Linked DNA regions of Homo sapiens. The protein of the gene in region 2 purifies or fractionates together with the protein of the main gene of each other region. This does not show direct contact. Each region holds a gene or a part of one and is shown on either strand. Other genes may lie near its edges. The genes, in order: VBP1, RNASEH2B, ZMYM2, RABGAP1L, DMAC2L, HIVEP1 and GTF2I.

What was found.
Region 1: the proteins of RNASEH2B (region 2) and VBP1 fractionate together in Homo sapiens (co-fractionation; one large-scale study listed by BioGRID). This does not show direct contact.
Region 3: the proteins of RNASEH2B (region 2) and ZMYM2 purify together in Homo sapiens (co-immunoprecipitation; one study listed by IntAct). This does not show direct contact.
Region 4: the proteins of RNASEH2B (region 2) and RABGAP1L purify together in Homo sapiens (affinity purification with mass spectrometry; one large-scale study listed by BioGRID and IntAct). This does not show direct contact.
Region 5: the proteins of RNASEH2B (region 2) and DMAC2L purify together in Homo sapiens (affinity purification with mass spectrometry; one large-scale study listed by BioGRID and IntAct). This does not show direct contact.
Region 6: the proteins of RNASEH2B (region 2) and HIVEP1 purify together in Homo sapiens (affinity purification with mass spectrometry; one large-scale study listed by BioGRID and IntAct). This does not show direct contact.
Region 7: the proteins of RNASEH2B (region 2) and GTF2I purify together in Homo sapiens (co-immunoprecipitation; one study listed by IntAct). This does not show direct contact.

What each region holds. Positions count from the first base shown.
Region 1 is NC_000023.11:155,229,960-155,233,459, forward strand, and holds part of VBP1 (prefoldin subunit 3), read left to right. Parts: intron 1-3,500. UniProt on the Homo sapiens protein: Binds specifically to cytosolic chaperonin (c-CPN) and transfers target proteins to it. Binds to nascent polypeptide chain and promotes folding in an environment in which there are many competing pathways for nonnative proteins.
Region 2 is NC_000013.11:50,944,291-50,947,790, forward strand, and holds part of RNASEH2B (ribonuclease H2 subunit B), read left to right. Parts: intron 1-1,136; coding exon 1,137-1,242; intron 1,243-3,500. UniProt on the Homo sapiens protein: Non catalytic subunit of RNase H2, an endonuclease that specifically degrades the RNA of RNA:DNA hybrids. Participates in DNA replication, possibly by mediating the removal of lagging-strand Okazaki fragment RNA primers during DNA replication.
Region 3 is NC_000013.11:20,084,227-20,087,726, forward strand, and holds part of ZMYM2 (zinc finger MYM-type protein 2), read left to right. Parts: intron 1-1,595; coding exon 1,596-1,788; 3' UTR 1,789-3,500. UniProt on the Homo sapiens protein: Involved in the negative regulation of transcription.
Region 4 is NC_000001.11:174,278,020-174,281,519, forward strand, and holds part of RABGAP1L (rab GTPase-activating protein 1-like), read left to right. Parts: intron 1-593; coding exon 594-760; intron 761-3,500. UniProt on the Homo sapiens protein: GTP-hydrolysis activating protein (GAP) for small GTPase RAB22A, converting active RAB22A-GTP to the inactive form RAB22A-GDP. Plays a role in endocytosis and intracellular protein transport.
Region 5 is NC_000014.9:50,318,824-50,322,323, reverse strand, and holds part of DMAC2L (ATP synthase subunit s, mitochondrial isoform a precursor), read right to left. Parts: intron 1,762-3,500; exon of another isoform or gene 948-1,761; intron 842-947; coding exon of another isoform or gene 837-841; coding exon 730-836; intron 1-729. UniProt on the Homo sapiens protein: Involved in regulation of mitochondrial membrane ATP synthase. Necessary for H(+) conduction of ATP synthase. Facilitates energy-driven catalysis of ATP synthesis by blocking a proton leak through an alternative proton exit pathway.
Region 6 is NC_000006.12:12,123,812-12,127,311, reverse strand, and holds part of HIVEP1 (zinc finger protein 40), read right to left. Parts: coding exon 1,442-3,500; intron 1-1,441.
Region 7 is NC_000007.14:74,664,218-74,667,717, reverse strand, and holds part of GTF2I (general transcription factor II-I), read right to left. Parts: intron 1-3,500. UniProt on the Homo sapiens protein: Interacts with the basal transcription machinery by coordinating the formation of a multiprotein complex at the C-FOS promoter, and linking specific signal responsive activator complexes.

The DNA.
Region 1 (3,500 bases), on a different chromosome or scaffold from region 2:
TGGTCCAGGCCACCTTTGTCTCTTGCCAGGACTGTGGGAATACTGTCTATTAGTTTTTAGGGATGCCATAATAAAATTACCACAAACTGGGTGGCTTTAACAACTGAAATGGACTGTCTCATGGTTCTGGAGGCCAGAAGTCCGTGATGAGCCCCAGAATCAGGGTCGATTCCTTCTGAGAGCTGTGAGGGAAAATCTGTTCTAGCCTCCTCTCTTAGCTTTGGTGTTCGCGGACAGTCTTTGGCATGTTGATGTGTAGAAGCATCACTGTGATCTCCGCCTTCATCTTCACATGTGTGCATGCATGTGTCCAAATTTCTCCTTTTGAAAGACCTTATCTCCAAATAAAGTCACATTCTGAGCTACTGGGGGTTAGTAGTCCAACTTATTTTTTGTTGGGGAGACAGAATTCAATCCATAATACCTTACTTCCACGTAAGGTCACATTCGCTAGTATAAGGGGTTAAAACTTAAATGTATCTTTTTTGGGGACACTGTTTAACCCATAATAATACCCTAATTCACTGTCTTGCTTCTGCCCTTGCTGGAATTCCTAAAGTCTTTCCAGCACAGTGGTCAGATTAATCCTTTGAAATCTCAATCAGGTCATTCCATTATTCTGCCCAAAATCTTTGAATGGTTTCTTATCACATTCCGAGGAAAAGTCCAAGTTCTTTGAGTGGCTGACAAGTTCCTATACATCCTGGTACTCTCTGTTACTTCTCTCTTTTTTTTTTTTTCTGAGACAGAGTCTCACTCTGTTGCCCAGGCTGGAGTACAGTGTTGTGATCTCAGCTCACTGCAACCTCTGTCTCCCGGGCTCAAGCGATTCTTGTGCCTCAGCTTCCTGAATAGCTGGGATCACAGGCACGTGCTACCATGCCCAGCTAAATTTTTTGGTAGAGACGGGGTTTTGCCATTTTGGCCAGGTTGATCTCGAACTCCTGGCCTCGGGTGATCTGCCCACCTTGGCCTCCCAAAGTGCTGGGATTACAGGTATGAGCCACCGTGTCCAGTCTCTCTGTTCTTCTCTTACTTCCTCGCTTGGCCACACTTGGACTTCTTGCCAGACTTAGAGCATGCTGGGAATGGCCCTGCCTCAGAACCTTTATTCTAGCTCTTTCTTCTGCTTAAGCTGCCAGAGTAGTGCTTTTAAAACATGTCAGATGATTCCGCTTTTCTGCTCAAGACCCCAGTGGTTTCCCTGTCACCAAGGGTGGAATACAGAGGTGTCCTTTCCACAGGACAGCCCTACTCCCTCTCAGCACTCATTTATGCTCATTCTTTTGCTCACTCTGCTGTAGCCATGGTGGCCCCCTAACTGTTCCTGGAACCTGCCAGTGTGGCCCCACATTTCTACTTCTGTGTTCTTCACACTCAATCCTTTGAGTTCTCAGTTCTGATTGTTAGCTCCCCCAGGGACCTGCTATGACTTGTCTGTCAGCATTTCTTGGTTTCACTTGTACTGTTTATCTTGTATTGTTTTCCTTCAAAGTACTTAGCACTCCCTGATATGTTATTGATTGGTGTATTTACCAGTTCCCTGACACATAATAAGTGCTCAGTAAAAATTTTTCTTGGGTGAATGACATTTTTGTTAGTTTTTCATCAGAGTTCATACATGCTAATGGTTCAAAGAGCAAATAGAAAGCAGCAGGCTACTGCTCCATCCCCAGATGCACCCACTTTTAATCATGTCTGTACATCTGTATGTACCTAAATATTTGGAATTTTGTTAATTGTTTTTACAAAAATGGGATATATATTGTATATTGTTCAGCACAGATGTCTTTATTTGTGAGTAGACACAGAGTTTGCCTCCTTGGTTTTATTGGCTTACTATTCTGTGGTAGGGCTATGTGATAATATTCCCAAGTCAAGGGGTGTTTGGATTGTTTTAAAATTTCTTGTACAGTGAGCGGTGCTGTAGTAAATATTTTTGCACATATAGACTTGTATACAAAGGCATATTTTTGTATGCTGCTTTGAAATGGAATTGTTGTGTCTAAGAGTATGCACATTTAACATGTTGATGGATACTATCAAATTGCTCTCCAGAAAAGACTACCAATTTTCATTTTCTCCAACCGTATATAAAAATACCCTTTTATTAACAGTCTCACCCACATTTTTAGATTTTTGCTAGTTTTATAGGTGAAAATAGTATCATCTTATAGGTTTTTGTATGACAAAATGCTCATTTGTATTTCCTCTTCTGTTTCCCTTCCTGACTATGTTGTTGCTCCATTTTTCTGTTGGATTCTTTTTCTTTTTTTTTTTGATAGACATTTAGGTCTTCTTTATATATTATGTATTTCGGATGCACAGTCTTCTCTTAATATTGCAGATACTTTTTCTCATCTGTCACTTGTCTTTTGTGGTAGCTCTTAGAAGTTTTAAATTTTAATGTAATCGACTTTATCAGATATTTATAATTTTATCTTAACAGTGTACTCCTTTCACCAAATCTGCAAACATTTTTTTCCTAATATTTATATACTTAAATTTTTTAGAAAACTTTTTTGTTAAGGATAACATGGAAAGATAAGCAACTCCTCAGGATAATGGGTGAGTGACTTCCAAAAAGAGGGCCTCCCAATGGCCAGTAAACATATGAAAAGTTGTCCCACTTCATTAGTAAACAGGGAAATGCAAATTAAAAGCACAATGTGATCTCACTGTGTACCCACCGGAATGGTAGGGTGATACTAAGTGATGGTAGGACATGGAATAGTGAGAACACTGATTTACTGTTGGTGAAGGTGTAAATGGACACAGCCACTGGGGAAACTGGCAGTATCTGTTAAAGCAGAACATATGCATTGCCTATGCCATAGCAGTTCCATGCCTGTCTCTATCTCTTTCTGCCTCTTGCTGTATATAAGAAATGTATAAATATTAACTAAAAGAAAGGTATAAGAATGTTCATATCAACTCTGTAGTAACCAAAACCTGGAAACAACCCAAATGTTCATCATAGTCGAATGGATGAGTAAATCATGATGTGTTCAGACTGTGGAATACTATACAGTACAGAGGAGGAATGAACTGCTGCTACACGCCAGCACTGCAAGGGTGATTTTCACAAACAAGGTTGAGTGAAAGAAACTGCATAGCAAATTACCACAAACTCAGAGGCTTAAAACAATATCCATTATCTCCTAGCTGTATAGGTCAGAAATCCAGATGGGCTTGGCTGGGTCCTCTGTGCAGGGTCCCACAAAGCCAGAATTAAATTGTCAACAGGGCTGTATTCCTTACTAGCATCTCTGGGGGAGAATTAGATTTCAGCCTTATTCACGTTATTGGCAAAATCCGGTTCTCTGTGGTTGAGGTCCCTGTTTCCTTGCTGCCTGTCGTCCAGGAGTCAGTCTCAGCTTCTAGAGGCCACCTGCAATCCTTGGCTCATGGTCCTTTCTGTTTTCAAAGCAGTGATATGACTAGTCTTTCTTACACTTTAGATCTTTCAAACTTCTCATTCTGCTGCCAGCCAGAAAAAG
Region 2 (3,500 bases):
GATCAGTGGATACCAGTAGTTGTAGTACTGTTTCCTAAGATTCTCTTCCATCTTTTGTGTGAAAAGTCATGTTTGTCTGCATGTTCTCTCTCATAAGTGGGAGTTGAACAGTAAGAACACATGAACACAGGGAGGGGAACATCACACACCGGGGCTGTTTCGGGGGTTAGGGGCAAGAGGAGGGAGAGCATTAGGACAAATATGTAATACATGTGGGGCTTAAAACCTAGATGATGGGTTGATGGGTGCAGCAAACCACTGTGGTACATGTATACCTGTATGACAAACCTGCATGTTCTGCACATGTATCCCAGAACTTAAAGTATAATAAATAAAAATAAATAATAATAAATAATAAATAAATTGTGTTTATTTGTCATACCATGTTACCAGGCTCATTGAAAGCCTGGGAAGCTGGAAATGAGTCCAGTAGAATAATCAGTCTCCTAATGTGCAAAGTAGTGGAAAGATTTAGAGTGCCATGTTTCATTTTTTATTTGTGATATAGTAGTAGTAGTATTCCATGTAGGCGAAGAATGAGAATAAATGCGGAGCAGAATCCTTGATGTTTACTTTTGCTCTTAGCCAAGGAAAATGACATGAATAGCGAAGAGGAGTTTATACTTACTGATTATATTTCCTAGGAAGTGGGAAATTTATATTATTCTATTTAGGAAGTTATTACATATAAATTTTGTGCCAGGTTCTATTGTAAGGGCTTTATTTACATATATTACCTCATTTAATTTTCACAGTAGTCTTATGAGGTGAATGCTATTTTTTTCCCCCATTTCACAGATAGAGCCACAGAAAGGTTAAGTAACTAGCCGTGGTTACAGAGCCAAGCCCAGCAGCCTGACTCCAGAGTCAGCTCTCAGTTATCACAATATGTTGCCTTCTCATATTGTGTAGGCCATGGAAGTCCATGTATTGAGATCATCCAGATATTGCTGCCACTCAGCCTTTCTTCAAATGGGCAACCATTTCTCATCTTCTGGTGTCTGGTGAAGATACTTCTAGGTTCTCAAATACTTCTTTGCAGATCTCTTAAATGGTCTGAAGGCCACCTATGAATTCATAGATTTCTAAAGTTAAGTTGAAAATACCCTGCCTTTCCCCTCTTGGTTGCTTCATAGGTTAATCAAACTGTGGCAGCATTAAAAACCAATAATGTGAATGTCAGTTCCCGGGTACAGTCAACTGCATTTTTCTCTGGTGACCAAGCTTCCACTGACAAGGAAGGTAAGTAAAGCATTTTATCAGAAAAGATTTTTGTCTGGAGTAAGTTGCTTATGTGTAAATGCCTATCTTAGGATTTAAAAATCTTAATATCACAGAAGCCTCATATTCCTACCAATGCCTCATACACATTGTGGCAGGTGTGCATCTTATTTCAGAAGCGAAGAATATTTCTACCATAGGTTACTTCTGTCATTCATTGATACTTAAGTTATTTATTCAGCAAATATTTCTTTTACATTGATAGTAGTAACAACCCTGGCTATCATTTATTGAGGGTGTATTGTGTGCCAGGCCCTTTGCTAAGTTGCCACTATACAAACATGATCTCATCCAACCCTCCCAGTAAATTTCATAATGAGCATCTTGAGGCCCTGTGCAAAGTCTCACAACTAGTAAATGCCAAAGCTGAGCTACTTATGGAGCTTGTCTCTGAAGCCCACACTTGTAATCTTTTTGTGATACTGTTCCTGTGGCACAGTTGTACTGTTCCAGTGGCTGCATCTGTTTGCATTTTCTTCTCAAGATGCATGTTTCCTGATACAGGGATCAATATATTTTGATTTTAGATGAAAATTGATTTACTTGGCAATTTTTCTTTTAGGTTATTCTTTTATAATCTAAAAAAGGTATATTATTTTCTTTTCCAAGTAGAGTCCTCTTATTTTTATATGTATAGTTGAATAAGAACAGCTATATAATGCAGTTAACAATCTCAAATGGTGAGACAGAAATTATTCTGACGTTAAACTCCAATTCATTGTTCCCTTATTCAGGGTATACATATGGCTTTAGTCATTACATAAATAAAAACTAGGAATAGTGGCCTGTTTGTGATTGATAGTAATTCAGGCAATCTGATTTGCAGGAATCTACCTTGCATGTATAGGTAGTTGGCTACTGCCATTCTGGGAGTGGTGGACAGCACCTTTGCCATACTGAGTTACCAGCTGTCAGTGTCTTTAATTGGCTTTAACAATAGAAGATGAGGGATTGAGATAGATGATTAATGGATAGATAGGTGGGTGGATAGATGCATCCATGGATGGATGGATGGAACCATAGATTTTGTTTTAAAAGTAGGAGAAGGGATGTTAGAGGTTATTTAGACAGATCATCTCATTTTTTAAATGGAGAGGTAGGTAACTTATCCTCAAGATCTTCTGTTCTAAGTCTAGTGCTTTTACCAGTACTCTACATATTAAGGTTCTGGGCTTGGCTATATTGCCATTTAGTGTCCTGACCATAAAGTAAACTTTACATATTTTACATTATTTCATTTTTTAGATATTTAGGTTGGTTTGGTACCAGAAGCAGCAAATGAACTATATGTTGACTTTCTTAAAATAGTTTTCTTGGTCTAGTCATGACTCATTGGATAATGACTATCCCAGATCCATGAGCAATTTTAAGAAGGGTCAAATGATAACTTTCAGTTCTCCATTGACAATGAAAATCTCTTACTGAAGACTTTTTGACATCAGGTGGTCCCCAGACGGCAGTCATTTTCTATGTAATACTGAGGCAAATTGTTACTTTGACTTGAGAGCAGAGGAGAATGGAAAAAAGGAAGTGAGTGAATATCCCAGCAGCAAACCTGGGGTCTGCTTTTGGTGCTTTATATCCCCACGTGGTTATCCCATCTTATGATTAAGTTTGATTATCTGCTTGTATTCTACATAAAATACTGAATTCAGGAACAGAGTTTTGAAACATTTTATTGTCTTCTTATGTAACTGTATTTCTAATTGCTGCCAGAGCTGCATTTTAGTACTGAGAATCCAAATGCTTTAGAATTAATGATGATAAATTCTGCTGAGTTAGTTGTTTAAGTTTAAGTATTTTATTAGTTTGGGAGTGTGTGTGTGTGTGTGTGTGTGTGTGTGTGTGTGTGTATGTAGAACTATGTATATAGAACAATATGTATGTATAGAACTATATATATATATTTCAGGGTTCTTATAAAGCAAATACCTAGTAGTAGAGACATGGTATTTTATTTCTCTTAAATGAGTACACTCATTACTGTTGAATAATTAGATTTATTCTTTATTGAAGCAGGCTTAGAAAAGATTACCCTTTTAAAAAAGACATGACTATTTCATATTGTTGTAGATGATTTTTAAACTTTATTTGTATTCAGTGGTTTCAAATAAGAAAGCAACCCTGAGTTTTTGTTTTTAATGTCATTTAGGGAGCATCTACTGTATTATACTTGTTTTATCTTATATCTTTGGTATCATCACATGTCATATCTCATC
Region 3 (3,500 bases), about 31 Mb from region 2:
GGTCTTGAACTCCTGACCTCAAGCCATCCTCGTGCCTCAGCCTCCCAAAGTGCTGGAATTACAGGCATGAGCCATTGCGCCTGTCATTGTCTTTTAAATTACAGCAATTCCAATGACAGCAAAGCAAGGGACACAAACTTTTTCTTAAACGGTCAGATGGTAAATATTTTAGGCTTTTGGGCCTATGGAATCACTATTGTAACTAATCGGTTCTCTTGTGACTAGAAAGCAGCCATATACTATATATAAATTCATGGCATGTGGCTGTGTTATAATAAAACTTCACATAAGCAGGTGGCTGGCTGTAGTTTGCCAATGCCCGGTGTAAAGGTATGCTCAAAGGTAGTATAGATAGGTGGAAATGTAAGTGAAGTATTTACATTTAAGAGAAAACAGTCAAGCAGGTATGAAAAATGGAATCATGTTCTGGAATTTTTTTTCCCCTCAATCTCAGACCAACAGGCATTTTAAAAAGTTTAAGCCAATAAAACGTTTAGAGACCATAGATTATTTTATGCTTGCCTGTTGTTTTAAGTAAGCACTCTCTAATTTTCAGAAGGTCAGCATGAATTCAAAATGTACTTCCCTGTTTAAACAAATTTATAAATCACAGGTCCCCAGGATGGCCCTCAAGGACTTGTAAAAACAATAGTATCATGTATAGGATGATATTAGTACAAGTTGAATGCGCCTTATCCAAAATGCTTCTGACCAGAAGTGTTTTAGATTTCAGATTTTTTCGGATTTTGGAATATTTGCATATACATTATAAGATGTCTTAGGGCTGGGACCCAACTCTAAACATGAAATTCATTTATATTTCATATACACCTTATACATGTAGCCTGAAGATAATTTTATTTATGCATAGCCTGAAGGTGATTTTATTTTCCCCTTGGGGTTGCTGAATAACCTGTGTGTTATGTGCCTGTGTTTTGGGCGCGAACTCCTCACATGAGGTCAGGTGTGGAACTTTCCACTTTTGGTGTCATTTTGGCAAAGAGTTTCAGATTTTGGATTTTTGAATTAGGGATGCTCAGCCTGTATTTCTCACCATGGTTTAGGGTGGTCCTATTTGGCTGCAGTAGTGTCAGGGTCTTCAGTTGGTAGTAACTATTTGTTAGTAGGAAATTCCTATCTCACTATTACCTTGTTGGTATTTTAAAAATTGAGTTTCTATTATGTAGTGCTGTAAGAATTTTTTAATTTTATGTGCTGCCATACATATTTCATCAATTCTAAGACATTTTCACATTTCACTATTTCTGAAACTGGGATGCACAGTTTAAATTGTTGCATCTTGAAATCATAATTGGCAGTGTTTCACTTGCTTAATGGTAGCATTAAAATAATGAGTGGTGTGTCTATTGATAGTGTCTTGGATTTAGTGAAGTAGAATTAAAATTGTGGGAAATAATCTCTATCTCAGAAAATAACTTTGAGAATATTTTAATGACAGAATAATGGAGACAGTGGGGCATAGGGGGTCTGGTCATATAACGTGATTAATGGGGTCTGAATTATTCTTGAAAAAAGAAAAAGTTGTGGAAATTTTGTGAAATTGACTTTTTCTCTTTTTCCTCCCGCCTCCAAAGTCCACAGAATCTTAATCAGAGGATGGATGTTTTTTATTTGCAACCAGAATGCTCTAGTTCTACAGATAGCCCTGTCTGGTATACGTCTACTTCACTGGACCGAAACACCTTGGAAAATATGCTTGTACGGGTTCTTCTAGTAAAAGATATTTATGATAAAGACAATTATGAACTGGATGAAGACACAGACTAAAAAGGAACGTTGCAGAAGCAATCGGGATAAAACAGCATTAGATAGTCATGCTGCTAGATCTTTATTATGGAAAACATTTCAAGTTTACTCCTTCTGTTTTGAGTTTTGTAGCAGTGTACCCACGCTGGGTATTACCATGTAAATAATCTGTGAGTGAAAGTTGCCATTATTCTATGTAGTGGTTTTAGGATACTTAACAAATACATTCAAATTCTTTTTTTATTATTATTTATTTGATTAGGTATGTTTGTAACTTTTTACATTACAGAATATGAATGAGAATGTGCCATGTATAATTTTTTTCTTGTAGTAAGAAACATCCATATTGCACAACTCTACTGTTGCAAAGCTTCCTTGGAAGGGGGCTCTTTTACTGGGTTCTTAACCAGATGGTTGTGTATGGGTAGCACTACTAAAAGTTTAGAACTTGCAGTGTCTTTCGGAATTTTTAAAATAAACTGTAAACTAATAGGCTGGGGTTTTTGTTTTGTTTTGGGGTTTTGTTTTGTTTGGTTTTACATTTTAGTTACTGAAGCCTTACAAGGTTATGTAGAGAGATACCATCTTCTGTACCAAAAATAGACAAGAGAATGCTGTCAATATTGGTGTACTGTAATGTGAATCTATGCTGGTGAAAACAATTTTTTGTTCCCCTTATTAAAACCTTAGTGTCCTTTTCTCATTTGTGGCTTTCTGCATCACCCAATCAATAAAAAACAAATATATATATGTATATATATGTATGTATGTGTGTGTGTATATATATATATATATATATATATATAAATGATTGTAAGTTGAAAACAAGATCATCAAGACATTTCCTTTGTAAAAATGTCTGGTGAAAGTATAAAATTCTGTTTTCTTCTATGCCAGCCATAAGTATCTGAAATCCTCTTCATTTATAGAGGTTTGATTTTTATTTCTTTTTTTCCCTCTTAAGGATACAGATCATGCTGCAATGTTAGCTGTGTAGTACTCTAAAACTTAGCAATTTTATCAGAATTCTTGTGCCTGTTTACATTGGATAAAATTGTTTTTAGAAATTCCACTCCTGAAATAGTTACAGAAAGTCAAGCTATGTTAAATAAGATAGGATCACATTTTATAATGAAGATTACCAGTGTAGTAATTCTGATATTGCAAATGATTGAGGAACAAACAAAGAAACTAATAGAGAAAGTCAGTCTCAGAGGAAATCCCATTTAATGTTAGATTGTTTGGCTTTTGAAATTACTTCTTATAGAAGATTGCATTAAAAAAAAAAACAACTTTGTGCTTCTGCATAGCAATTTATCCATTCAGACCTTTTCTTTTAGAATAAGGAAACTTAAAATCTACTTTCTAAAGACTGAACAAAGTGCTAGCTGCAAATTATCTTGAAATCATTTGGCTCTTTTCTAGCATGTGTGTAATCATGTTTTCTTCTGATTCCTGAATGACCATGGTAGCATTAGTGTTTAGAAATTGTTCAGGGGAAAATTGAGCTATTTTCCATAGTGGCTAGCAATTGCTACACATCCTTAGATACTCCTCTCTCCCATAGGATAAATGTTACAGCACACAAAAGAAATTTTCTCAATTCTGATTTGGAAAATTTCACAGGTGTCATTATTGTATATCTAAGCAATAATTATCTGAATGTTTTGGCATAAAAAATTATAATGTTCTAACTTGTTTTATAAGTTGAATGACTTTTCAGTCCCTTGATT
Region 4 (3,500 bases), on a different chromosome or scaffold from region 2:
AAATTGTAAAGAAAATAAATTTTAAAAAATATTTAAAAAGGAATGAGGAAATTACAAAATGGTATGGAATGACCAGGCCATAGATTCAAAAACCTCAATGAGGCCAGGTGTGGTGGCTCACGCTTGTAATCCCAGCACTTTGGGAGGCTGATGGGGGTGGATCACCAGAGGTCAGGAGTTTGAGACCAGCCTGGCCAACATGGTGAAACCCCGTCTGTAGTAAAAATATTTTAAAAATCAGCTGGGTGTTGTGGCGGGCACCTGTAATCCCAGCTACTTGGGAGGCTGAGGCAGGAGAATTGCTTGAGCCCTGGAGGCGGAGGTTGCAGTGAGCCAAGATCGCTCCATTGTACTCCAGCCTGGGTGAGACTCTGTCTCAAAACAACAAACACTTAGGATTATTAGTTCCTAAGAAACATGCTTGGAGTACTTGCATACTTATTTAATCAAAATGTGAATAGAACAGTTAAAAATAAACATAGAAGGTATTACAATTGTAAAGAACTTTAATTCTTTCATAAGTGAGGAAACTTTGTTTAAAGTAGACAAGGAATAATAAAGCTCGCATAAAACCCAGAAAATTTCTACTACAGATAAGCAAGTATACATGACTGTGGCAGTGGATATGGTAGTCACAGAGGTGGTGGAGCCTGTTCGCTTTCTCCTGGAGACAGTAGTCCGTGTGTACCCTGCAAATGAGCGATTTTGGTATTTCAGCAGAAAGACTTTCACAGAGACTTTCTTCATGAGATTGAAACAGGTAGGACCTTTTTGTTCTCTTCATATATAGTAACAAACATTTTTCTTTCCACACTTCTTTTTTAATGCCAAGATAATTCCTGAAGTTGCAAAACAATACAATTCCTCAAAGAAATCAAATGATATTTGAAGTCAACCAATAGAGTGTTTGAAAAAGTCACATCTAGGTAATATTAGCTAAAAAAACCCAGCAAGTTTAATAATTACATACTTTTTCCCTAGAAACCTGTAATGTATGAACCTTCTTAACAGAAATATTGACTGCATATAAAACAACGTTTCTGCCTTTTATAAACAATTACTTAAAACCAAAAAGGCAGTGCACAGAAATATCATATGCTTATAAAATTTTAATGAAAATGTTTCTAAGAAATACCTAATTTCTATAGTTATTTCTGCCTGTAATATTAGATAGACAATATTATATGAACATCTTGTTTGACTCATCAGTGAGGTTATAAAATTATTTTAATATTAAATGAACAAAATTATGGTTTCTATGATATCCTCAAATTAGGCAGTATTAGTAGATAAAATATGTAACTTTTGTATTATAGCAAAGGAAGCAGATAATAATGAAAAATAACTTGAATGCTAATTGTGTGAGTTTTTAAAAAATCAGGATAAAAATGCTCTATTAGAATAATGAACATCTTTTATATGCTGTTTTTGTTAGTACTTTCATTCTCCCAAGTTTTAAAATGCTTGCTGCTTCATATACTATAATATGTGGACTGCTGTGTGATAAAAGCAGGCACCAGTACAGGAAACAAATATAGAAGCCTCTTACCCATTTTCATATTAAAAAAACTGCCATGGCGCATCTCGGCTTTATATACTATGTACTTGGAAATTATTGTGGTTTTAAAAAAATCTTTCATAAAATTATTATGGCTGTTATTTGACTCAGTTTTTATTACTGTGTGAACTGCTTTTATAGCATATTCTAATGAAGGTTATGTGAGCAATATTCAAACTTCAGTCTCCTGAGCATCTTTTAATATTTTATTATGAGACTTTTTTCCTGTCTTCCTTCCTCCCCATCCTTCTTTTTTAAAAAAATAGCTTAGTTATGACTATCCAATAATTCTTCATTTTGAGCCAAAGAATTATTCATAGTTGCATAATCGTGAATAAAGGAGCTGGAGCTGTATAGAAAGTTGTCATTCTTCTAATGATGATAAATTATAATGTAAATTATACCTCCTAGAGATCTGAGAAAATGTTAGGTTTTTCCCAGTTCTAGTACTTTTGACTGTCTGTCTGCCTGGAGAGAGAGAGAGAGAGAGAGAGAGAGAGAGAGAGAGAGAGAGACATTAAAGTAATTGTTAAAATTCATGTAAGTAATTATTGCAAGACCTGAGACTATAACTCCTTACCTTAAGCCAGAATATGCTGCTGTAAGGCCAGACTAGCTTCTTTCTACACCTCCAAAAGGTGGGTTGGTTTGGGGTGGTTGATGGTAATCTGGAGATGTTGGTCTACACTATACAACATTGGTAGAAAGAATGAATTAGGTGATTACCTAATGCAATTCAAAGTAACCTTTGAAAATCTGGGTCCAGGCCATTACTACTTTAAAGAAATAAAGAGAGAATGCATTGATTTCAGTTCTAAGTGATTTAGACACCTAGAACTTTTTCTTTCATTCTGAGAGTGTTGAACTTATTGAATGAAACCAGAACTTGTCCTGTACCCAGACAGGATTAGACCAGACTCCTGGGGGCAACACCAAAGTACATGAGATGCCCTGTTCCCAAACTATTTTTTCTTGGCAACTTTCTTCTCTCAAATATAGCAGAACTTTATGTGTGGGCAGTGGGGATGTATGAAAGTCTGCTTTGTTCCTGTTTACTGTCCACTCAGGGCCAAATGGCATTTCATTTCATTCATTGTCCATTTACTGGGAGCAAGGAGAGCACTTAACAAGAGGATGGAAACTAGAGTCTGGGAAAGTAAACTAGAGGCTGGGAAAGTAAACTAGAGAAAGTCCTTTTGTGTCCGGAATTGGTTCCTTTCAGTGGGTTCTTGGTCTTGCTGACTTCAAGAATGAAGCCGCGGACCCTTGCGGTGAGTGTTACAGTTCTTAAAGATGGTGTGTCCAGAGTTTGTTCCTTCAGATGTACAGATGTGTCTGGAGTTTCTTCCTTCTGGTGGGTTAATGGTCTCACTGACTTCAAGAGTGAAGCCGCAGACCTTTGCAGTGAGTGTTACAGCTCTTAAAGGTGGCGTGTCTGGAGTTGTTTGATCCTCCCGGTGGGTTCGTGATCTTGCTGGCTTCAGGAGTGAAGCTGCAGACCTTCGCGGTGAGTGTTACAGCTCATAAAGGTAGTGCGGACCCAAAGAGTGAGCAACAGCAAGATTTACTGTGAAGAGCAAAAGAACAAAGCTTCCACAGAGTGGAAGAGGACCCGAGCGGGTTGCTGCTGCTGGCTTAGGTGGCCAGCTTTTATTCCCTTATTTGGCCCAGCCTGCGCCCTGCTGATTGGTCCATTTTACAGAGCACTGATTGGTCCATTTTACAGAGCGCTGATTGGTCCATTTTACAGAGTGCTGATTGGCCTGTTTTTACAGAGTGCTGTTTGGTGTGTTTACAAACCATTAGCTAGACACAGAGCACTGACTGGTGCGTTTTTACAGAGTGCTGATTGGTGTGTTTACAAACCTTTAGCTAGACAGAGTGCTGATTGGTGCGTTTACGCTCCTTTAGCTGGACAGAAAAGTTCTCCAAGTCCCACCCG
Region 5 (3,500 bases), on a different chromosome or scaffold from region 2:
GACTTTTTTAGTTTTGTTTTTGTTTCCACGTGAACGCTGTCAAGGCGTATTATTTTTATATGAATTTATCAGACACAACGTTTCATTGATTCACATATAGTACAGTGCTTGACACCAGAGATACTTAGTAACTATTCTACGAATGACTATACTTGGTTAGAATTTGTATTAATAACAAAAGATTAAAGAGAAAATAATTCTGAATCTGTGGTCAAATTAATCTCATTAAGTGATATTTATTAATTTCTACATATGCTTTTTTCTCTAGCTAGTGATCATAATGCTGTATTAAGTAATTAGAAGGTTAGTTTCAAGTTTCAAAATGACATTTCTAAGTGTGCCACCCACTAATTTTTTGAAAACCCAAGTTACTTTGATAGAATTCAAAAGGTTAACTACATTCCTTTAAAAAGCCATAAAAATAAAATACTTTAAAATTATATTTAATAAGTTTTTCTGATTATAAAATGTTTTAGAAAACTTGAAATATATCAAAAGGACAAGTAAGAAAAATCATCGAAATCCTGCAACCCAAACAGCCACAATTAATATTTTGTAATCTGTTTTTCTGGTGTTTTTTCCATGTTTGTGTGGGTTTTGTTTGTTTGTAAACAAAATTAGGATCACACTGCACAAACTGTAAATATGAGAAATAGCCAAACAAGCTATTGGGAACTTATTTAGCTGTAACCATCTCCACATTTCTTCACTTTATTTAGAGTAACTTACTTATTAAACACTGCATTCAACCAGCCCCAGAAGTATCTGGAGTCACATGACCATGGGAGTTTCTTTACGCCACACAACTGCTGGGAAATTTTTCCAAACGGCATCATTTGATCTAGACACACAAAACAGTACTTACATTAGATCATCATCCGAGTCCCATACATATAGCAACTTACTTCAGAGTCAATGCTCTTGTACTGATAAAGCTGATGACTCACTTGCCACTCAACAATTACTGAGCAAGTCACTCCTGTTTCTTGTTCTTGGGGTTTTTTATTTGTTTGCTGCAAAAAAATGAGGGGTTGGACTGGATGGTGTCTAAGGCTCCTTCCGGCTAGAACGTTAAGTTCCACTGTTGAAACCTCAATTGGAGTCTGCCTGTCGTACTGCCATCTAGTGTCCATTCAGGCGCTGTAGCTATGAATTTGCTGAAGCTGGCTCCTCTATTCCCCATCTATATTTCCAGCATCAAAATGACAGACTAAAATCACCGAAAGAGCAACGTGTCAAGGTTAAGATGCTTGCATCCAGGAAAGAAGAGGAGACATGAAAATAGATCTACCTATGACAAGGCTGCAAGTGGTGTTACCAGAGCAGTGTAAACAAAAAAACTGTTTTAAGGGCAGCTGGGAAAGACTGGGCAAGTAACTTCACCTCTCTGACCTCTGGTTTTCTCATTTGTAAAATGAGATGATTTGCTTAATTTCCAGCTGTCAAAATGTATAACCATAATTTGAGAAAGTGATTCCTGGAGTAGGTTTCGATTTGATTGACCTCAATTCAAGTTTCCCTAGTAGTATGCTAGGTGTGTGCAGGGGACTGGATGTGGCAGGGAGGAGGAGATGGGGAGACAAAGATAAATGAAACATGGTGTTTGCTTTGAGCATCTGACAATTTAATGCAGGATGGAGTGGGCTAAGACACGTTATCAAGTAGTTAAAATAAGTGACAGAACTTGATAAATGCCTCAAAAGAGTTAAAATAAGGACAGAAAGGATTTCAACAAACAAAGGTGCCAGGAAAAATTATGCCAGATTATTAGCTGAAGCAGGAACATTTAAGGCATGTTATTTTCAGTTTCACTAGCACATGTGAGTCATGAGAAGAGGCAGGCAACTTGCACAGTCAGGTCGTGAAGTGTTTTGCATGCTCAGCCAGGGAATTTGGACTGTATTCTGTATGTAGCAGGGAGTCACCGAGGTTTCTGAACAAAGCACTGGCCCTTTGGGAGGCCGAGGCAGGCAGATCACGAGGTCAGGATATCGAGACGATCCTGGCTAACACGGTGAAACTCTGTCTCTACTAAAAATACCAAAAAATAAAAAAATAAAAAATTAGCCAGGCATGGTGGCATGCGCCTGTAGTCCCAGCTACTCGGGAGGCTGAGGCAGGAGAATCGCTTGAACCCGGGAGGCAGAGATTGCAGTAAGCTGAGATTGTACCAGACTGCACTCCAGCGTGGACAACAGAGTGAGACTCCATCTCAAAAATAAATAAATAAATAAAATAGAACAAAGCATTGGCATTGTTACGGTTGTGCTTCAAGAAATTGACTCAGCAGCATCAAGATTAAGGGTCAACAGAATGGGACAGCCAGTCAGCAAGGGCTTCAATCACATGAGGCCATACGAAAGGGCCTAGTTGGGGAAGGATGGGAATGACATTACATAGTTAGTTCCATATGACTCAGTTAAGTGAGATGTAGGGGCAAGGGCTAGAGGAGTTGAAAATGACACCAAGTTTTGGCCCTGGGTCACTGGTAGTAGGATGGTGATGCCATTAAAAGAAATCACATTAGGAGAACAGGGTTATAGGTTCAGATTTTTTTCTTTTAGTTTTTCATAATCTACATACTAAGTGTTAGCAGGATTTCTAAGTGCAGATGACCAACAAATCATTGGAATCAGAGGTCACAAAACATTAGAGCTGTAAGGAATTTAGATCACCTGGATGAAATCTCTCATTTAGAGGTGAGGAAACTGAAGCCCTGATATTAAGTAACTTCCTGACATCCTAAATCCTTTCTGAAACAAGGTGGGGTATTAATAAATGCATGTGTTTAAAGGGACTTGCTCAATGTTTCATGACTAATTGGTGGCAGTGTTGAAACCTGAACCCAGTTCTCTACCAGCCCAGGGTCCTTTCCTCAATCATTACATGGTTCTGGAATTCAAGAGAAAGAAGAGGACTAGAAAGATGCCTGAGAGGGAAACACCTTAAAGCTGAGGAAGTGATTGAGGATGCTGAGGCCGTGGAACAGTGAGAGATGTGAACTGAAGACAGAACCAACTACCCTTTCATCCCTTTTTCACTACAGCCGTCTTCATTACTGCAAGCCTCTGCTCCACTACCTCTTATCATGTTCTCAACCCTTTCCAACTTTTTGTTAAAGCGCTCTCTGCCTGTGCCCACCTTGAATAACTCTATTAGTTGTCAATCTTATTTACAAATATGGGCTTTCCCAGCTTCTACTCAGGCTGTTTTCTCTTAGCCTCCCTCCCCCATCACCATCAATCTGTGGAAATCCCACCCAACCTCAAGACCTTACTCAAATGCCATGTCCATTCATTCATTCGCTCAAAAAATGTTTATTGAATGTCTGCTATACTTAGTGCAAAGGCAACAATGGTAAGACAAAACAAACAAAAACAAGAACAAAGGAGAAAGAGACACACAGAAAGACAAGGTTCCTGACCTCATAGAACATATAATTTAATAAAGAGAGATAACATATAAAGAGATAAATAACACCCAACGTGGTTGGATAATAG
Region 6 (3,500 bases), on a different chromosome or scaffold from region 2:
TCCACCACCATACACATGATTTGATTTTTACCTATGTTTCCAAATTATAACTCTTTTTAACCAGGCCAGACTCTTCAGAGTTCTTTAAATGAACCAAGTTTATTCTCATTTCCATGTCATTTCGTGTATTATTAATTTTTTTTTTTATTCTTGCTGGGCGCGGTGGCTCACACCTGTAATCCCAGCACTTTGGGAGGCCAAGATGGGTGAATCATCTGAGGTCAGGAGTTCAAGACCAGCTTGGCCAAACCAGACATGGCGAAACTCTGTCTCTACCAAAAATACAAAAAGCCAGGCGTGGTGGTGGGCACCTGTAATCCCAGCTACTCAGGAGGCTGAGACAGGAGGGTTGCTTGAACCCGGGAGGGGAGGATGCAATGAGCCAAGAGCGCACCATTGCACTCCAGCCTGGGTGACAGAGTGAGATTCTGTCTCGAAAAAAAAAGCTGCTTCTTCTTTGCCTGAAAAATCCCTATTTTTTTAAAAAAAATTTGAACAGTTAGCTAAAGTATCACCACCTTTGGAGTATGTTTGCTGAATTCTTCTCTCTTCCACCTACCAGTAATGTTAGAAACTTCCTTCTTTAGAATTGTTCATAATTCTATGGTAATACTGATACTGCAGTATTTTCCTACTGACAGATTTGTAAATGTTTATTAACCTGTGTTGCATGCTTATGAATCTGCAGAGGCCAAATACTTCTGAATATGCAGAGTCGAACGTGATATGCTTACCTATTATTCTAATCAAGTAAATGACTTTTTCCCATTTTATAAAGCTGATAATTCTAATGAGACTGATTCCACAAATTACCCCAAGTTACAGTTTCATGACCTTAAATTACTTTATAAATCTTGACCAAATCAACTTACCAAGTATATGAATTATTTTGTGAAACTTCTCTCTAGTGCTAATGGTTCTCACAGCTACACTGGAAGACAGCTACATAGCATGACAGGGGCGTGTAGCTAGTAAGCTCAAGACAAGTCTAAATGGCTTTCTGCTTATATTTCAGGATGAAATACAACTATCTTTGATTATCTACACCTGTTTCCCTGCATGAGGAGGAACAAAGCATAACCATGATTTCCTTTCACTTAACAAGAAAAACAAAACCTCAATATAAGTAAAACATCAAAGTAAAACCATGATCATCTGTACTACTAAGTAAAGACTTATATAGTTAGCTGAGAAAAAGAAAAGTGCTCAGGGTAAATCATTTCTAAAATCTTTCAAGATAGAATCACTGCAAGACTCTTGGTAACTCTTATCAATGTAACTCCTGGGGTAAATATATCACCCTGTCTTTCAAATAAGACATTTACAGCACAATTTGTCACTCAAAATTAAAATATTTCCAGTTAAAATATTTAAAGGTATCAAGACACATGGAAACAAATTTGCGCAAACCATATCTGAAGATAAATTATATTTCAAGTACCTTGCTTAAGCTGCTTTTCCACTTGCTTGAATAGACCAATAAGTCTGACTTGGAATGGGTAGTTATTGCTTGACAGTATAGTGATTTTCCAGTGTTCTGTTTTGAATTAAGGAGAGCAAGTGCAACTTTTGTGGGCAAACCGAGTGGATTTGGATTACTGGCGCTTACTGTCCAATCAGTATAGGCTGAAGTTTTCTGGTCCTTCTGAGGCAAATGCAACGACTTCTGCCTTAAGAGATAACACCATGTAAAGTTGGTTGTAGTTTTCAGGCTAGGGAAAGCCAGCTGCTGGGTGTCCTTGATGTTAAACAATGAAAGAGAAGTGACTGGCTGTTGACTTTGCTCTTGGATGTTCACTTTGTCACCTTGATTTTTAACCCCTGGAGACTTCCTTTCTTGGTTATTGTCTGTACATTTCAAAGGAGAAATATGAGTATTTTCTGAAGGAGCAGGTGAACTTCGAACTGTAAGAGTTAATGATGTGGATGACTTGATGTTTTCAAATTCCTGCAATTCACTTATAGGTTCTATAACGACAAATTTAGAGCATCCTGTTGATGAATTATCAGCTGGTAAAACATTTGTCAAATTAACAGCCTCATTACTAATTTCAGGTTGAGAAAAAACATCCTTTTCCAACATCACACCGTCCAGGGGCTCTGTAGTACAAACCTGTCTCACTAAAATAGGCTTCTTCTGTTTACTAGCTTCATTAACTCTCGAACTCAAAGCCTCTAAAGGTCTCACGTCTGTTGCACAAACAGCTCCATTTTCATCTTTGGCCCGCTTCTGGTGCTTTTCCATGGCAATGTCTAAACTATTTGCTGGGGAAAGCATCCTTTTACTCGAAGCTGAAGATTCTTGTTGAGGGGAAAGTCGACCAACAGATATTTTCTGAGTTATGGGCAAGGATTCTGATAGAGAAGAATTTTGGCTCATCTCTGAAAAAACATTTTCACATAGAAATTCCTTCTCTGGGTTTGGCAAAGCATTCTGATGACCTTTTTGTAATGTTGGCACAGAATTTTGTTCTTCACTGATTGGCACTACACTATGATTAGTCTGGCAAATTGGCTGATTGGGCAGATCTTGGGTCACTAGTATTTGTGGCAGGGATGTGAGTGTAGCAAAACAGTAAGCAGGAACACTACTCTGCAGGCGTATGGGCAGCATGAATGATGATGGCACCTTCTGCACCTGACTTCCAAGGGGCCTGAGCTCTGGTGGTAGCAGAGGATGCGAATTAGACATGCTGTCAATTAATTTGGTTGGTAATGTTGCTGATGTCACACAATGATCTGTTCCAACTGGATCTGAAATAACTTGATTTGGCAAAGAATGCACAGGATTAGAAGAGCAAGATGGGCCTGAAGTGAAAACCTGACAATGCAATTGGTATTTGGGAGCAAAGCAATCCTCACTTTTAGAAGACCCAGATAAAACAGAATTTTTATCTGGCTTGCTACCCTGCGTAGACACTTGCAGAGATAGCTGTGTGCTCTGGTGGCTAGGCGGTGCATGGATTTGATTTAACAAATTGATATCACAGAGCTGTTGAACAGGAAAAACGTTGGTAGAGCTGGAGTTTGATGTTTCTGCCTGCAGATCCTTAACCTGAGTCTGAGAGTGCAAAGTATTTGCAGAAAACTCAGCTAAAGATGTACTAGTGAGCTGAGGCCCCTGATATGGCACTGCATTCACACTGGGAAGAGCAGTATTTTGGAAAGATGTTGGGTGTACAGGAGACAGATGACTATCTGGGGCTATGTTTAAAGATATTTGCCGTACCAGTGGGCCTCTCCTTCTTTCTAAGAGAGGCACATGCCCAGTCACTCCCACTCGAGAAGGTGAAGATGGAGGCTGCAATTCAGTAAGTGGTGTTGTCTGGGGTGGGGTGATGCTTCCACAATCGAATGATTTGCTTCTGAGATCAGAGACCTCCATTGACGTTTGCGTGCAATTAATCTGTTCTGATGCAGTACGCCTCATTTCCCGGTGACATCCAGGAACATTCAGAGTATTCAAGCCAGCTGGAATCATAAGAAACTCGGCTTTATTT
Region 7 (3,500 bases), on a different chromosome or scaffold from region 2:
AGTGAGACCCCCATCTCCACAAAAAATAAAAAAATCAAGCCAGACGTGGTGGCATGCACCTGTAGTCCCAGCTACTCGGGAGACTGAGGTGGGAGGATGTCTTGACCCTAGGACACGAAGGTTACAGTGAGCCAAAAGCATACCACTGCACTCCAGCCTGGGCAACAGAGTGACATCCCGTCCCTCCCCCCACAAAAAAAGGTTAAAATGGTAATTTTTGTGTTAAGTATATGTTACCACAATTTAACAACAACGACAACAACAAAAAACACTACAAGGAACCACTCCAAAGAAAGGCATTCACGGTGTAAATGGCAGACACAAATTTATTCTTCATAAAGGAACAAATTCATCTTACAGGATTTTCTTTTTTTTGAGATGGTGTCTTGCTCTGTCGCCTAGGCTGGAGAGCAGTGGCAAGATCTCGGTACACTGTAACCTCCACCTCCCGGGTTCAAGTGATTCTCATGCCTCAGCCACTCAAGCAGCTGGCATTACAGGCACCTGTCACCACTCCCAGCTAACTTCTGTATTTTCAGTAGAGATGTGTTTTTTTGTTTGTTTGTTTTCCTTGAGACATAGTCTTGTTCTATGGCCCAGGCTGGAGTGGAATGGCGTGATCTTGGCTCACTGCAACCTCCGCCTCCAGGGTTCAAGTGATTCTCCTGCCTCAGCCTCCCGAGTGTCTGGGATTACAGGTGCGCACCACCACGCCTAGCTAATTTGTTTTTGTTTTTTGAGACAGAGTGTCACACTGTCACCCAGGCTGGAGTGCAGTGGTGCGATCTCAGCTCACTGCAAGCTCCGCCTGCCGGTTTCACACCATTCTCCTGCCTCAGCCTCCTGAGTAGCTGGGACTACAGGCACCCGCCATCACGCCTGGCTAATTTTTTTTTTTTTTTTTTTGTATTTTTAGTAGAGACAGGGTTTCACCATGTTAGCCATGATGGTCTCGATCTCCTGACCTCGTGATCCACCCGCCTTGGACTCCCAAAGTGCTGGGATTACAGGTGTGAGCCACCGTGCCCGGCCAATTTTTTGTATTTTTAGTAGAGACGGGGTTTCACCATGTTGGCCAGGCTGGTCTCAAACTCCTGACCTCAAGTGAGTCATGGCCTCCCAAAGTGCTGGGAGTACAGGAGTGAGCCACCACACCCAGCCAAAAAAAATTTTTTTTAATGCTTACCGGGGGGGAAAACGAAGAAAGAAAACGAACAGGAGGAAGGAGTAACACTAATGAATCTTGCAGGGTCTATTTCTCTGCCCTTTCCTCATATGGACATAATACATGCCATCGTCCTCCTCTGTCAAATTATCTCACAGATGAGATCATGTAATTTAAGTGCATTAAAGTCTAATGCCAAAGCCAGTTACTAATTTTAGTTCACTTCCAATACCTTATTTATTTTCTTGAAACCAATTACGGTCTGAAAACTCAATCTAGATAAAATTCTACTCACGTCATGTATGTGTTATAGTCAACAGTAAGAGCTAAATTTCTAGATATAACAAATTAAAATGAACAACATATAAAGCATACATTCTCAGGTTTCATCAATCCAACTGTCAAGCTCTGGCCAGGCGCGGTGGATCACGTCTGTAATCCCAGCACTTTGGGAGGCTGAGATGGGCAGATCACCTGAGGTCAGGGGTTCCAGACCAGCCTGGCCAACATATAGTAAAACCCCTTCTCTACTAAAAAATACAAAAATTAGCTGGGCATGGTGGCGCACGCCTGTAGTCCCAGCTACTTGGGAAGCTAAGACAGGAGAATCACTTGAACCCGGGAGGCAGAGGTGAAGGTTGCAATGAGCTGGGATCCCGCCACTGCACTCCAGCCTGGGTGACAGAGGGAGACTCCATCTCAACAAAACAAAACATAAAAACAATGTAACAGTCACAGGGGAAAATCCCACAGAGGAATAAGTCCTTGCCCTTGCAATTCATATTCTCCAGAGTTCTTGGAGATTAACGTCATAGTCGATATTACTAGTAAAATTTTCGCTTCCTCAATTTCCCAAAAGTCTTTATAATAGTACTTTTATGACTAATATTTCTTGAGTGTCTACTACATGCCAGACAGCAACCTAAGCACTTAAACTCTATCCTTGCAACAGCTCTTAGAAGCGAAACATGTTCTATTATCAACTCCATTTTTAAAAATAGGGGCCAGGCGTGGTGGCTCAGGCCTGTAATCCCAGCCTTTGAGAGGCTGAGGTGGGCGGACCATCTGAGGTCAAGAGTTGGAGACCAGCCTGGCCAACATGGTGAAACCCTGTCTCTGCTAAAAATACAAAAATTAGCCAGGTGTGGTGGCGCATGCCTATAATTCCAGCTACTCGGGAGGCTGAGGCACAAGAATCACTCGAACCCGAGAGGCAGGGGTTGTAGTGAGCTGAGATCATGCCACTGCATTCCAGCCTGGGTAACAGAGCAAGACACTGTCTCAAAAAATAAAAATAAAAATAAAAAATAGGCCGGGCACTGTTGGCTCACACCTGTAATCCCAGCACTTTGGGAGGCCGAGGCGGGTGGATCACCTGAGGTCAGGAGTTCGAGACCAGCCTGACCAAAATGGAGAAACCCCGTCTCTACTAAAAATACAAAATTAGCCAGGCGTGGTGGTGGCACATACCTGTAATCCCAGCTACTCAGGAGGCTGAGGCAGGAAAATCGCTTGAACCCAGTAGGCGGAGATTGCGGTGAGCCAGGCGCGCCACTACACTCCAGCCTGGGCAACAAGAGCAAAACTCTGTCTCAAAAAAAAAAAACAAAAAATAGGGAAACATACAAAGATGAAGTGAAATGCCCAAGGTCGCACAGGCAGGAAACGGCAAGGGCCAGGACTGGAATCCAGGCAGTCAGACTTCAAACTTGTGTCGCTAGCCATAAGCTATAAACCCTCTCTCAATTTATAAATTTGTCTTCCCTCTCATGATATATTTTTTAAGTAACTAGTTCTTTAAAAATCCTACATAGAGTGTTGGCCAGGCGTGGTGGCTCATGCCTGTAATCCCAGCACTTTGGGAGGCTGAGGCAGGTGGATCATTTGAGGTCAGCAGTTTGAGACCAGCCTGGCCAACATGGTGAAACCTGTATCTACTAAAAATACAAAAATTAGCCGGGCATGGTGGCACACACCTGTAATCCCAGCTACTCAGGAGACTGAGGCAGGAGAATCGCTTGAACCTGGGAGGCGAGAGTTGCAGTGAGCCGAGATCGCGCCATTGCACTTTAGCCTGTGCGACAGAGGGAGACTCCTTCTCAAAAAAACAAAAACAGAAACAAGTTACAACCAAAGGAGAATGAGTCAATCCTCCAACAACTCTGACAGTTCCTGGCTATACTGAACTTTCTCTTACTTTCTCAGTAGGCCAAAGTGGTAAAAAGCAAATGAGTACTGCCAGAAACAGGCATGGAATACCAAAACAAGAATTTTACAGAGGAGAAAACAAACAGGAAGACAGCAGGGAGAGTTCCAGAACAAAAGGACAACAGTA